Regions from separate parts of the Homo sapiens genome. Here region 2 is linked to region 1. Evidence: fine-mapped expression QTL. A gene starts in region 1. The other region holds a variant in brackets. All regions are shown on one strand. Distances are between the middles of the regions. Region 1 holds the start of FLI1 (Fli-1 proto-oncogene, ETS transcription factor). Region 2 overlaps FLI1 (Fli-1 proto-oncogene, ETS transcription factor).

Evidence for each region. PIP is the estimated chance that this variant, and not a neighbour inherited with it, causes the effect. A credible set is the group of variants that fine-mapping cannot tell apart.
Region 2: its variant is the best candidate, but not a certain one, in a credible set for the expression of FLI1 in whole blood (INTERVAL, PIP 0.72).

What each region holds. Positions count from the first base shown.
Region 1 is chr11:128,691,636-128,696,021 of GRCh38, forward strand. FLI1 (Fli-1 proto-oncogene, ETS transcription factor) reads left to right here and starts at 2,437. Exons shown (of 9, transcript NM_002017.5): 1 at 2,437-2,641. The coding sequence starts at 2,624. It overlaps SENCR (smooth muscle and endothelial cell enriched migration/differentiation-associated lncRNA), which reads right to left. Exons shown (of 3, transcript NR_038908.1): 1 at 4,278-4,386; 2 at 1,020-1,756; 3 at 37-486. RefSeq lists silencers at 1,496-1,545, 1,566-1,705, 2,389-2,758, 2,979-3,028, 3,069-3,288 and 1 more and a cis regulatory region at 1,925-2,657.
Region 2 is chr11:128,733,424-128,737,809 of GRCh38, forward strand. All of the region lies in intron 1 of FLI1 (Fli-1 proto-oncogene, ETS transcription factor), which reads left to right. Among named protein-coding and RNA genes, the nearest start is that of SENCR, 40 kb to the left of the region's middle. RefSeq lists enhancers at 583-872, 626-1,171. The variant T/A (reference allele first, on the strand shown) is at 1,851.

The DNA of each region.
Region 1 (4,386 bases):
CTTTGGAGAAACAGAAAGTGCGATGGAGTTCCACAGTTAAAAACTAAAGGGCAAGTCTTCAATTTAATCTAGTTCCATATTGAATAATTCCAGTGGGGGAGGCAGCTGGTGCTGAAAGGAATTGGGGGACAGTATAGGAATGTTCGGGTGACTACTGATTAATGTAGTGAAGATGATCTGTCACTTGCCAGACCAACAGGAGTTGGAAAGAGAAACCTAGCCATGGTGTCTGCCACAGAGGGACCCTCTAAAGTGCTAGGAGGAGGGTGGGGGGCAGTCGCCACCTGTGGGATGCCATGAACAGCCTCTGCAACTGGCCAGCACCAGGAAGGGGGGCCTCCTGGTGGTGGAGTTGGAGTCCTTTCTGGCTGAATGAGGAGCAATGTGGCTGGGGTGTGCGGGTTTCTGGTGAGGTCCGGGTGGGAAGCCGTCTCTCCGCATTCTCCTGAAAGCTCTGTTGTAGTTTGAAGGTCGGTAGAGCCTGGGCTGAAAAGGAAACAATTTGGGGTTTGAAAGGATGTAATTCATTCTTCCTTTCCCGTTAACCTCTTTCCTCTCTGGAAAGCACGTGGAAACGCTGAAGGGAGGAGTGAGAGGGCAGGCAGCCTGCCGCGGGGAGGAAAGGGTTAAGCCTGATTTCTTTTAATTGAACTCCAGAACTGGTGGCCCCAGGCAAAGGGGGGGACTGACCCCGCTAGCGGTAACCAGATGTGGCGGTCCCAGGGGAGCCCCGGAGCAGACCCCTGGATTGAGAAGCAGACAGGAGCGGGGGGAGTCAGCCCGGCCCCCATCCCACCATCCACCCCACCCCCACCCCCAACACGCACACCAAGTCTCAATTGCTGGCAGGCTGCACCCGCCACTCCAGGTCTGGTCACGTTCAGACCCGTGTCTGTATTCGAACCCAAAATTGGAGCCGAATTGATGAGACTAATTTCTAGAGAGGGAGGGGGAGGGAGGGAGACGAGTGAGCTCTCGGGCTCAATTGCTCCTGAAGAAATAAAGAATTAATAAGTCACCTTTTTTCGCCTCTGTGGACACCCTTTTGAAATTTTTTCTTCCAATTGACTTGGATCTCCTCTGGATTTTTTTTCCCTCTTTCCCCCGTCGGACTCTTAAATAAAAGTGAGCAAGTCCAAAGCGTGGTCCGGAGAGCGTGGACAAGGTAACCTGTTTTGGATGTCCGGGAGAAGGGAGTCCGGCCGAAAGGGCCCAGCCCCTCGAGGCTGCTCCAACTGGGGCGCGCGGCGGCCCAGGAGGGAGGCGGGGAGGTCTCCGGGTTGGGCCGGGGAACGCCGGCCTCCAGGCTGGGTAGGGAGGACGGTCCAGAGCGCGGGCCTCCGGGTCTCACCCCGGGAAAAGTCTGGGTCTGCTCTGCGCTGTTGCGTGCTGCGCTCCTGGGACCTGCTGACTGTCCTAGAGGGAACGTCCCGCGGTAGTGTCAGTTCCCTGGGGACCAGGAAGGGCGACTCTTGCCTGGGAGTCAGTGCTTGGGCCGTCGGGTCCGGGTAAGCGCTGGGGGTTTGGCTCGAGAAGATGCGGATAGGTGGCCTAGGGCGCCGCGGATCTCCGCCCTCTGCGGGCACCGGGAGCCCAGGGTCGAGGCGCGCCGCCCCGAGGGGCCCCTTCTCCTAACAATGCGCCCGGAATGGAGTCCGCGCCCTGACAGCGCGGGTCAGCCCGAAACCGCCCAGAATCCGCTTCGATGAGTGGGTGAGCCGCTCTGGGAGTCTGCCGCGTCTCGGCAGCGGAGGGCCTGAGTGGAAAAATTCTTATTGGATGCACTTTTTAATGGTTGGTTTGCCTCGGTTTTCGTCCGAGTCTTCCCCGGCAGTAGGCGCTGGGTTACCCGCAGCCCTAGCCAACTCTCCCTCCATACCCCCCCTACCCCACCCCCAAAAAGTTTGTCTCCGGCTGGAAAAAGCATTAATGAACGTATCTGTGGGAAGAAACGGAAAGTGAATGAGTCAGGAGGGCCACCTTCGGCCAACCGCCTCAGGAAAAGCAAAGAAGCCAAAGGTCTTTGGCTTTGGATTTTGGGGGAAGGTGATGGGGGGAGGTTCAGACTTCGGGAATCAGGGCGCGGACGCTGGGCGTGGACCCCGTCATTGTTCCCGGCTAGCTCTTATCTCCCAGGAGCAAGTATCCTGTGTGCGCAGCGCATGAATGTGTCTGGGCATCTCCGCGTATATTTATATAGTGTGTGATGCGAAAAGCAGGACCAGCAGGGGAGGAAGAGGGGGTGTGGGGGGGGAGGGAAGACGAGGGAGAGCAGAGGGGAGAGAAGAGAGAGGAGAGCTCGAGGCGAGAGAGAGAGAGAGAGAGAGAGAGAGAGAGAGAGAGAGAGAGAGAGAGAGATAGGACTTCCTCCCCGATTCGCAAAGTGAAGTCACTTCCCAAAATTAGCTGAAAAAAAAGTTTCATCCGGTTAACTGTCTCTTTCGCTCCGCTACAACAACAAACGTGCACAGGGGAGTGAGGGCAGGGCGCTCGCAGGGGGCACGCAGGGAGGGCCCAGGGCGCCAGGGAGGCCGCGCCGGGCTAATCCGAAGGGGCTGCGAGGTCAGGCTGTAACCGGGTCAATGTGTGGAATATTGGGGGGCTCGGCTGCAGACTTGGCCAAATGGACGGGACTATTAAGGTAAGCGGCGGGGCAACGGACGCGGGCGGCGGGGACCGGCCGGGGAGGCGAAGCGGCGGGCGGGTAGGTGCGGGGCCCGCGTCCCGGAAGACGTGGCCTCTCTCCCTTCCCTCCGCGCCCCGGCTTCGCGCCGGCTCCTCCGGCGCTCGGGTGGCGAGTCCTACTCGCGGGCCAGCCGGCCAGGCGCCCGCATTGAGGGCGACCCTCCCCCGAAATCCCAGCCCCCAAAGTGGAGCCCCGGCCCCCCTCCCACCTCGCTGCCCGCCGGGGCTGCAGGAGGGGACGGCGGGAAACCGGGGGACCCCAGGGTACGGAACGGAGTCAAGGGCGAGAGACCTCGGGGTCCACCACTCCCACCGACACCCGGGGCTCCCGTGGCCCCAGCGCTAGGCACTGGGCTTCCTCTCCGCAGAGGCGGAACACGGCGGGGGCGGGGGCTGCAGTCGCCCGGGCTCGGGTCCCTGCCTGGTGGGCCCTGGGGTGGGTAAGTGGCCTCGTTGCACGAGGGTAGGGGTGCAAGTGAGTGTGTCGGGGGATCTATCTGAGCGGGCTCCTCCAGATGGAAGCCCCTGTTTACATGTCAGCGCTTTCCCTTCCTCTCGGCACTCAGTCGCCCGGCTCTAGGCGCTGGAGAGCCGCCGGCTCCGCGGGACTCCTGGGCCGGCCTCGCCGCCTCTCCGGCGGGGAACCTTCCCCAGCCCCCGTCCGCACAGATCCCTAGCGCCCCGAGCCCCCGCCCTTCGCGCCTAGGCGTGCGCCGGCTCCAGGACCAGGGCTCCTGGAGCTGTCGCCTCCGAAAGGGTCCTGCGTCCTTCGGAGCCGCCTCCGTTGCAGGGGCCGGCTGTGAGCCCGCGCCCCGCGCCCGCCCGGCCATTCCCACCCCAGCCGCCGCCGCCAAGCCTGGGTCTAGGTTGCAAAGTGCAACCCAGGCGGAAAGGTGAGGGTTTGGGTTCGCGTCTCACTTCAGAAAAGTTGACTGCTGTCTCTGAAAGGGTTCGCCAAGTAGGGCCAGGAGCAGAGAGGAGGGACACCCCCTAACGTGACGGGCCTTAGAGGACCTAGGGGAATGAATGGGACCAGGGGTTAGCTTCGAGGCTGCCGCGCAACACCAAGCGGGAGTCTGTCTGGAAAAACTATTAGGCTGGCGAGGTGGGGACTGGCAGAGCCCGCCATTCCCCAGAACCCGAAAGAATCGACTCCCTGCTCAGGGCTCAGCAAGAGAAGGCTAAGATGTTGGGCTCAGAGAATTCAAGAGATTTTTATCTTCTGGGTGGGGTCGTGGTTTTTATTTTCTAAGTTTTTTTTATGAAAGTTTGAAATATGCTGACTTAGGTAAAAGACACCAACCGAAGGAACTTGCAAATCTGGAGATGAGATAACTGACTGTGATGGGTTAAAGGGAGCTATAAGAGCCTATAAGAGCCTGGGTTCCTCAAACCCAAAGTGAGTAGGTGAGAAGTAGGTGAGAGGGGATTCCTGCAAAGACCCGAGAGTGGGGGTCATTGGGCCATTTTATGCCTGTTTCTCTGCTTCCTGTTGATGTGTTCATGCAAGTGTCTCTGTATTTCTGGGTTTAGTAATGAGATGCTCCCCTCTAGAAAACTCCCTCGCCCCAATCAGGACAGTTACCACTTACTCTGAAGGCCTCTTCTGATCCAGAAGGGTGGTAAGATGGCCTCAGGGTCTTGATGTGGACACCCTAAGGAAAAGTGAAGAAATATCTCCACACTGCTTAAACTCTACGC
Region 2 (4,386 bases), 42 kb after region 1:
ATCTCAGTAGCTCTACACACTCCGCCATTCAAGCTTTCTCAGCTTCCCCTCACTCTTTAGAACCTGGCTGATGCTGAGTGAACACGGTCAAGTTAGTGGGCCAGAGTAGATAAAAATAATGGAAACATGCAAAGTGAGTCACAGACAGCAAATCCAACCATTGCCTAGAATTTGTTGGGTGTCACAGGTCAAGCTACAAAGATCACATTCGCCATTTGGACTCAGTTGGCAGGAATGTTATGCATGTGTGATATAAGATGCTGTGCGCTGAAAGTCCCTGAAGCTGTGCAAATACTGGATCCAGCAGAAGTTTTCTCTGTTGTGCCCATCTGCCTTTGTCTAATTAGCCAAGGGTCACTTTGGCTGCCTCCCTTCCTTTCACATGGAGCAAAGGTACCCAGAGAGGCACATGTTGATGCATTCATATGCAAAGAAGTTCTTGTCTTTCTCTCTCTCAAGTCATTGTTCAGTGAGGAGTCAGCTCCCACATGCTCCTCCTATCTGGGCTGCAATCAGCACAGTGAGGAGAGGAGCGACAGAGCACATGATTATGACCGGGGCTTGCTGCTGAGCTGCAGGGGTTCAGAGTACTGCTACCTGTGCAATGGCAGCTTCCCCAGAGCGCCCAGGGGCTCCGAGGCCACAGACAGAAAATATCTTTGCTACCACGTGCTGAAAAATATCCCCAAAACCATTTGCCAAAGATTTGACTTGGTTAAAAGCGAGGTGGAGAGGGGTGGTTAAACAGGGGAAGCTATAGAAAGGAAAATGCGAGAAAAAGATGTTTTGCATATTAAACAGCCCTGCTTTGTCCTCCAATTCAGCCAAAACGTTTGGAGGAGGCTGCGCTGTCCACGTCCACAGTGCTCTGAACGTGCCTCATCTGATCTTGGAAGCTAAGCAGGATCGAGCTGAGTACTCAGATGGAAGAAGGCTATTCTCGTGCGTGTGCAGAGACCAAGATCATAGGGAAAAGCATGTCTAAGGTTGGGTTTTGTGTACAAATATTGTATAGGAACATAATTCAACCTGTTTAAAACAGGAGGATGATTGTGGCTGAAACCACGGTGGGAGGAAGGAACATGTTACATTTCTTCAAAGATAACTGCAGATCGAATGCCTTCATCCTTGTGACCCGCGCTGCCTGCACTGTGGTGTGTTTTGCTTGGTTTGCACCAATGCCCTGGCTGGCGGTCACTTGCTCTTGGTGGCCAGTTTCATTTCCTGGTTTTGAGAAAATGTCAGGGAGGCCTGTTGCTTGGGCATACTGTCACTGAGGGAAGTGTGCAGTTTTAAAATGTCAAAGCCAGCAGGCTCATGTCCAGTGCATGCCATCAATCAGCAAATGTCCCTGGACCCCTAATGAGCCCACTGAAAGTTCAAACGGTAAATAACGAACAGATAAAGATCTTGCCCTAAAATCGCCTACCATCTAACCAAAGGGGCAAGATCAAAAGGGAAAGAAAAATAGTATCAATATGGAAAAATAAATGTACTAATTGCTGTAGTGTTTGTGGGCAAAGAATGCAGCTGAGAAAGTGCAGCCTCGTGGAAAGGGCCCCACGGAAGGGAGTCCAGAGGGTTGGCCTCACACTCTTCCCCTTCCCGCTTTATGACCACGAACGTAGTCCTTCAGAACCTTTGTTTCTTCATCAGCAAAGTGGGGGAGGGGAATAATCCTGCCTTCTTCTCCAGTTTATTAGAGTAATTAAATAAGATTATAGATGTGGGAAGGCTCCTATTAAGATCAATGTCTTAAACTATAAAATAATCTACAATTTTCCTTGTCATTATTATTACTGATAACAACAAAATGAGGGGAAATAAGTCTAGAAAATGCATCATCTGCC[T/A]GTTCCATTAAAAAGAGACAGAGGCAGAGATGGAGCTGGACACAAGAATTCAACCAGCCTAGGACTTTGTTCTGGCACCTCAGTGTATATTTAAAGTCCTGTATAATAACATAGAAGTAATCATGGTTATCGCTTATTTGTATTGATGGATTTAAGGTGGGCTTTTTATTTCTAAGGTTTGGATACATCTAAGAAAATAGCATACTTCCTAAGATACCATTTGATTTTAATTTTCAGAGAGCTGATCACCAATTTGGGAGAACTTTGTGACTGTATGTTTGGTATAATTCCTTTAGAGATCAATTTGATGATGGAGAAATAATCCTCACATTATCCACATTATCAGATGTCTAGATAAGATAGGAAAGGTAACTTTATCACAGCTGTGTGACCCATGATGGCCTAGGTAGCTGAGTGAACCAGAAGTCTGAACTTGGAAACTAAGTTGTAAAGTTCTTATGAACTTCCTAGGGCTTCCTGAGCCTCCCCCCACCTTTAGATGCCAAGTCTCTTTGCAAATTCATATCATTCCTGCAAACAGAAAATAGTATTTAGAATAATAAGATGTTTTTCAAATTTTCCTTCAAGGGTCCTATGAGCTGGCCTGATAAATTGTTTAACTTTGAAGGGAATTTTGAACAAATAGGACAAGACAATCGAAACACGTATCTAGAATTAGGACATGGTTGATCCCGAAGTTCTTAAATACTGAAACCTCCTTGTGGTATGCAGAGGCCAAATTGATCATCTTTAGGCAGAGATTCCTTAGACATGATCGATGAGGCTATCCATCTAGCGTAACACTGAGACTTTCTTGTGTAAACCCCTCACACCCACTAAACAGGAAATGCAAGCTACTAGAGCTGAACATTCAACCACCCCCTAAGTCCCCACCCTCCACCCCCGCCCAGCATAAGAACATTATTCTTTGCTTTCCTTTCCGAAGAGCTGTAGGCATTCATTCATATATGCAGAGCAATCAGACATCATTAGACAAAGAACACCTGATAATAATTCTCACATTTTGGAATCTTAAGAAACTTCCAATGAAAGGGGTGATACGAGTTGGTAAGCCACAGCTTTTGGCGGTAGCATGAGCCCTCTGGCTTCTGAAACCCTAGAGGCCACAGATAAGATACACTCTTGTAGCAGGCTTGTCATACTTGAAATTCTAACTGGTAGCTTGATATCCTGAGTTGCTTTCTCACTTGAGCAACTTTGGTTGAGAATGTAGGAACCTGGAAAGATTTCTTGAGACATGCTCATTTTAGACACACCCAGAAACATGCCAGGTACAGATGACAATTTCCACTATAGGTAAAACATCTCAAAACAGAAGCCTAAGCTGACAGTGGACCAATAACTGCATTGTTTATTGGTTTCCCAAGGCAAATGTTCAGCAAATTCTGTATATATAATCAACAGAAAATTTTGTTCAGATTCTAGAAAAGATAGCTGCTGTTTTGTATATGTGTGTACTTTCTGCTATAGTAGTATTTGCATAAGTTAAATATTTTCAGTGCAATTTTTATTAGTTTTCAAAATGCACTTTTGTGGGTATCTGTGTGTATGCAGGTGTGTGGGGAGAACCATGAACAAGACAAAGACCCCTTGTCACTGAGGGCAGAGCCTGACTCAGCATCCCAATACAGCCCCTGGTTTGCATTCTTCCCAAAGGAGGCACATTCTAACAAACAAACAACCATGCCAAGCCTCCGACCACAAACCCAACCAAACATTTTCAAAAAGATGTATATATTTCTGTGAAAGAATATGGATATCTTTCAGTGCTCAAGAGGCAGTATTCTGCAGTAGATCTAACTCAAGTGGATAGGGACTTCGGAAAGCCCTTTTTCAAACTGAGTTTGTTGAATCCAGCTAGCTACATGGAAGGGATGGCAGGGCTCAGTGGGAGCAGGACACAGTAGGGGAGGCCAGGGTGCAAGCTCATCCACTCCCTCATCTGTAAAATGGGTTAGTTCCCTGACCACCTCACCACACTATTGTCAGGCCTCCTTCACTGGGAGCTGAAAAAGACAAACGCTGAAGCAGAAAGGAGGGTTTTTACAAACAAGGCTTGAATGATAGACACATATGGGGCATGCGTCTCCCATCACAGCCCCCACCACACCGGAACACGAGCTCTGTTCAACATGGTCCTCCTCTCTAATGTCTATGAGTTCTAGAACTTGAACAAATCTTTGTCAAGAATGTAGTCCAGCTCTGTCTCCAAACCATGAACTCATCTGTGAACAAGACATTTCTATTTTCCTTTATCTTTAAAAATTTATTTTAAATGAAATAAATGATGCATGAATGTATTCTGTAGAAAATTTAAATAGAGATCGAGGAAAAGCCCTCTTGCCTCAGGGTACCCCATAATCTCACTTCCCATCCTAGAAATGGCCATCCAGGGCTTATTGAGGTACCTAAGATAGCTTATGTGAATGATGTCACTTTTAGCCTTAGGAAATGTTCTTTTGGGCTCAGTTCCAGTTACTTTTGTTGTGAGGTTCTTGTGGAAGGTTCACTTTCT